2 separate regions of the Homo sapiens genome follow, and region 2 is linked to region 1. The links come from fine-mapping of genetic effects on plasma protein levels. A gene starts in region 1. The other region holds a variant in brackets. All regions are shown on one strand. Distances are from middle to middle.

Region 1 (2,924 bases):
GAACGGCTTCTCATCGCGGGGCTGGAGGCAGAACTTTCTGGTATTGCAGTCCGTGTCAGACAGGCACTGTGAGCCCTGTGGAGGGAATCTGTTATCACAAGGCTAGGAAACCCCCAACACGATGGAAGATGACTTATTATTGAAGGCAGGAGGCGGAGGGAGCCAAAGGACAGTGGCGCTGTGACAAACCCTGGGCAGCATCTTACTCTCCAGTGGAAATGGTTTTCTCCCACAAAGGGAAGCTCATGTCACCCGGGGAGACCTAGGCGCTGCAAAGGCTATTTGAGTTTGAAAAATTGACTTAACTCAGAATTTAGTTTTCCTGTGCTCTTTGTGAAAATGGGAAAAAATGTTTTCCTATGTGTGTCTTAACAGGTGAGTATGAGATTTTCAATATATCTTAACTCTAGAAGCTGGCTACAGTTTCATTAAACATACTATTGATGTTTGTGGCATTCCTATTTGATTTTTTACTCTAGTGAATCACATTTAGCTTAGAGACCCTTCCCTAAGTGAACTGTCCTTTGATTTTCAATGATGCCTCATTGACATAGAGAAAGAGATACCGAAGATCAATTGTTCTCATACACAGTTGATGCTTCTACATAGACATACAACGTAGGTGTAGCATATATGATATATGTAATAATCTATACGATATATAATAACATATACACATACATAAAGCGATTCCTAAAACAACTCTCTCTGTGAAGTTAGATGGTGACAAGGCAATGCATCATGGCCCTCTGTTTAAATTCTCATTCCCATGTTTGCTTGCTGGCTGTGTGAGCTTGGGTAAGCTCTTCAACATCTCTGAGTCTTATTTCCTCATCTGGAATTAGGGAATGTTTCACCTATCTCAAATTGTGAGGAAGAGTACATGACGTATTACATGTAAAAGAGCTGGCACATAGTAGAGCTTCCAAAGTGTTCGTTTATTTCGTGATTTATAGACAAACGTATGGCCGAATGATGTGAAAAGCCACTGTGTTTATTTCATACATTCACACTAAGGCCACTGATCCTACCAGGATGCCCTCCCAAATCCGAAACCAATTCAATTTACCTGCTAGGTAAGACATTTCATACATGAATCAGAATGACTTACTAAAGCCTAAACAAAACACCCCAGCTGTCAGCAGTCCCGTACCTCGCCCCCCTCCCTAGCAGCCTTACCTTCCGGGCCCCATGCAGGTCAGCAGAGCTCCTGATGTTGTTGAAGTCCAGGACCAGAGCTCCCAGGGGAGAGCAGAGCCAGCTCAGCCCCAGCAGGACGGCCGCCACCATCCTTCAATCCCGGGGCTCCTGGAGGGTCCCAGCACTGTGCGTCACCAAAGCGAGGCTGCTCTCCACCCAGAGCAGAGCTTCCACTAAGCTGGCAGCTCAGCACGTCGTCTGTTTGTCACTGCTTTTTCTGAAAGAAGTAAACCTTAGTCTGAGTAAGGTGCGTGAAATCGGCTGAGCAAAGTCTGACCAGCAGGTTCCTCCTGAAACTATTTATAACCAGATGTGCCTCCTCCCCGCTCCGTTCCTTCCTCCTGCCCCACACAGGCTTCAACAAATCCCTTCAAATCTGTTTGATCAATAGTTCAAAACAAGGACTCAATAGAAGGAGAGAAGAGGCAGGGCCATGCGGCTTCTCCTCCAGGGGTTCAATCCCTCTTAATTATTGCATATCAAAGTTAGTTCAAAGGGCCACGGCAGAGCAGGATGTCTGTATCAAAGGCAAACTCTGATAATCACCTGCATTTCCTACCTTCAGTAATCCTTTGGGGGTAGGGAGGGAGTCTGCCCTAAGATCTGTTTTCACAGCTAATTGTGCTCAAAGAAAGGATGAATCATACTGGCCAATATGCTATAGAGGATGCCAAAAACTAATGAGGTACAAAATACACTGAGAAGCTGTAAACTGGGCTTCAGATAGTGAGGACAGATAGAAAAAGAGAAAACGCCCCCTGATTAGCTCTGGCATCCAGATGTCAAAATCCCAACCGCTTAAAAGTTGTGAACGTAACAGCACCTGTTCTGACTAAATGCCATTTGGGAAATTACTTTCCTTTAAATGAAAATTGAACTGTTTGAAGTTAGGGTTATTAGGAAAATAATGTAATTTATGAAAATCCCATTTTTCAATGGTGGGAACAATGATAGCGCATTTTACACAATTCAGTACGAAGCTTTGGGTCCATTTTATCAGCAACATATTTAATTTGTGTTGCATTATGTAAAACTCACTTAAGCAGAACAAGGATCCAAGTCTCTGGCTGATTTCAGATGAAATTTCATGTATTTCCAATTTTCCTAATACGAATTTTTTAAAACTTCTGCTTCATCCCTTTCCTGTCTGATTTTTTTCCATTTGGACTATTAGTCAGGTAATTTAGACATGTGCTTATCACTGTCTTAAATACTTTAAGGGTAGAACAATCTAGATCTGGATCAAAAAATCATTTTTTCTCTTCATTGTTTCATTGCTCTTAGCATAGAGTCATCTAAAATGCATTTTTTCTATGCCATAAATGATAATCTTATTATTTACTACATTTTCCTGCAGAACAACCTAACATCAATTCATTGACATGAATCTCAGCATTCTGTGCATGGGAACATTCTCAATTTTGAGTAATGCAGTGCCATTCCGAGGGTGATGCAGGTGATTCGAGCCTTCCTACTACTTGGCCCTTGTCCTTGGGTTGGTATTGCTTGTCTACCTCTCGTATGGAAGTTACTTGTTTTAATCCCTTAAACTGACATCAAACAACACCCTTTGATAGCATGATAACCCTGGTGACTAGGGGTGTTACAGAATTTATTTTCAAGTTGTACAATTATGACCAAGGATAAAGGAAAGAGCCCCCAGGGTTCTGTCTCTGCCGGGTTTCTCTGCTTCCTGCTGCCTCACTGTAAGGGAATTTCAGGTT
Region 2 (2,924 bases), 1.2 Mb after region 1:
AGAATGTTGCTGCATGGTGCCCCTGTCCAGGAGACGTGTGAAATTTTGAACTTGAGGGTGATGACTTAGGTAGTATGTGGTGAAATGAACTTCTAAGGAGCAAAGCTCAAGAGGTGTCCTGCCTGCATTGAACTACCTATGCTCTTATGTGTGACCAAACAAATGACCTCAAGTTGAAATTTGTGTTTAAATGAAAAGCTGAGCTTAAAAGTTTGGAAAATTTGCAGCCTGGCCAAGTGGCAAAAAAAAAAAAAAAAAAAAAAAAAAAAAAAAAGCTGATTTTCAGGGGGGAAATTAAAGAAGGCTTCAGAAATTTGCATAAAAAGGAGCCCAGTGCTAACAGCCAAGACAATGGGGGAAAAGGCTTGAAGGCATTTCAGAGACCTTTGCAGCAGCCCTTGGTATCACTGACCCTGGGACCTATGAGAGAAGAATGGTTTCCTCTACCAGACCCCTGGCCTTGCTTCTGTGTGTAGCCTGAGGACACCACTGCCTGCATCCTGCAGCTCCAGCTCCAGCTGCAACTCCAGCTCCAGTCATGGTTCAAAGATGTACAGGTACAGCTTGGGTTACTGCTTCACAGGGTATAATTTGAGGGGGACCAGGGGCAGAATCATATAATTTGGCTGCATTTTCCTACTAAAACTGACATCATATCATAATATTTCATGTTGGTGGTTGGGTCTGGATGCCAAGGTGAGGAGAGGTGAAAAGTGGGGATGGTGTTCAGAGTTTGCAGGACTAGAGTGGTGGGCTCGGAGCTTATTTGGAGAGAGGGGTATTGTACATTTTCAGGGCATGGGGGTGGGGCGCAGATTCTTTACCAATGGTTAAGCACCATCTCCTTGATGCTGTCCTCATGATATTGAGTTCTCATGAGATTTGCGGGGTTTTTTGTTTGTTTTTTTTTATAGTGTGTGGCACCACTTTCCTCTCTCTCTTGCTCTTACTTTGGCCATATGGGACATCTCTTTGCTCCTTGGCCTTCTGGGATAATTGGGAAGCTTCCTGAGTCCTGCCAGATGTAGAACCCACTTTGCCTTCTTTACAGTCTGCAGAACCATGAGGCAATTAAACCTCTTTTCTTTATGATCATAGAGAAAATTGGTACTGTGGAGTGGAGCTATGAAATGCCTTCAAGGCCCTTTTTCCATTGTCTTGGCTATTAGCACTCAGGTTTTGTTTTATGCATATATCTAAGCCTTCTTGAATTTTACTTCTGAAAATGGACTTTTCTTCTTTTACCTCATTACCTGGCTTTGACAAATATACCTGAAAATGTAGAAGACAGCTTAGAAGTGGGTAACAGACAGAGGCAGAGAGTTTGGAGGTCTTAGAAGAACAGAATAAGATAAAAGAAAGTTTGGACCATTGTAGAGACTTGTTAAATAGTTGTGATTAAAAGGTCAACAGAAGAATGGACAATGAAGGCCAGAGTGAGGAGGTCTGAGGTGGAAATCAGGAACTTACTGGGA[A/G]CAGAAGCAAAAGTTACTTTTGTTTGGCATTAACAAAGAAAGTGACTGCATGGTGGCCCCGCCCTGGAGATCTGTGAAACTCTGAACTTGAGGGTGATGATTTAGGGTATATTCGGTGGAATGAACTTCTAACTAGCACAGCTGTAGATATGTCCCACCTGTGTCAAACAGCCTGTTCTCTTATGTGTGGACCAAAAAATGACTTCAAGTCAGAACTTACCTTTAAATGAGAAGTGGAGCTTAAAAGTTTGGTAAATTTGCAGGCTTTTTTCTCAAGTTATGCATTTTTAGAATGACATGAGGTTTGGAGGGACGGGGCAGGGTAATATGGTTTGGCTTCATGTCCCTGCCAAAACTGATGTCAAATTTTAGTTTTTAATGATGAAGTTTGGACAGTAGGTGTTGATGGACTCATGTGGGTGGGTTATTAATGAATGGTATAGCACCATCCCCTTGATGCTGTTTTCATGATAGTGAGTGAGTTTTTATGAGATCTGGTTGTTTATAAGTGGGTTGTACCTCTTTTTCTGTTTTGCTTCTGTGCTTATTATATGAGATGTCTCAGTCTTTTTTTTGCCCTCCTTTCTGACTTGAAGTTTCATGAGGCCTCTCAGAAGTGGAAACTACTATGCTTTTTATACAAGCTGCATAACTATGAGGCAGTTAAAACTTATTTTCACATGATAACACTGAAAATAGGTGCTGAGGAGTGAAACACTTGACTAAAGATACCTGACAATATGGGAAGAGGTTTGGGTCTGGGTAGTGGGCAGAGGTTAGAGTTTGGCATGCTCAGTAGGAGATGGGGATTTAAGGGGAATTTTGGAACATCTTTGAGATTGTTTAAATGATTATGATCAAAATGTTGACAGAAATGCTGACAGTGAAGGCCAGGTTAGGTGGTCTCATAGGGAAATGAGGAATTTAGTGGGAATTGGAACAAAGGTCACTTTTGTCTTGCCTTAGCCAAAAATGTGGCTGCTTTGTGCCCATTTTATAGGGATGTTTAAAACTTTGAACTTAAGTGTGATAATTTAGAATATCTAGCATAATAAATTTATAAGCAGTGAAGCATTCAAGAGGTTGTGTGTCTGCTTCTAATTGCCTGTCTTCATATGAGTGAGCATAGAAATGACCTAAAGTGTGAATTTATATTTAAAGAGAAAGCAGAGATTAAAAGTTTGGAATATATGTAGTCTGGACATGTGGTAGAACAGAAAGCCCATTTTTAGGGGAGTAATTTTGGATGACTTCAGAAATTGGCATATGTAAAAAGGAGCCAAGTGGTAATAGCCAAGACAATGGGGGAAAGGCTTCCAAGGCATTTGAGAGAGCTTTGCAGCATCTGCTTTCATCACAGGTTCTGAGGCCTAGGAGGAAAGAATGGTTTCATGGGCCAGGCCCAGGGCCTTACATCCCCGCACAGCCTCAAGAGACCGCTTCTTGCAT

Direction of the effects. Positions count from the first base shown, and alleles are read on the strand shown. Strength reflects both the effect of a copy and how common the allele is.
For the plasma level of the protein whose gene starts at base 1,474 in region 1, allele A in region 2 goes with a higher level than allele G (weak association).

The links. PIP is the chance, under the fine-mapping model, that this variant and not a neighbour inherited with it causes the effect. The UK Biobank Pharma Proteomics Project read protein levels with antibody pairs (Olink). The fine-mapping took linkage between variants from a reference panel, not from the people measured, so its PIPs are less certain.
Region 2: its variant is fine-mapped to the plasma level of the DKK4 protein (UK Biobank, PIP 0.99).

Annotation. Positions count from the first base shown.
Region 1 is chr8:42,375,756-42,378,679 of GRCh38, forward strand. DKK4 (dickkopf Wnt signaling pathway inhibitor 4) reads right to left here and starts at 1,474. Exons shown (of 4, transcript NM_014420.3): 1 at 1,180-1,474; 2 at 1-75. The coding sequence starts at 1,290.
Region 2 is chr8:43,527,381-43,530,304 of GRCh38, forward strand. No RefSeq gene overlaps it. Among named protein-coding and RNA genes, the nearest start is that of POTEA, 240 kb to the left of the region's middle. The variant A/G (reference allele first, on the strand shown) is at 1,476.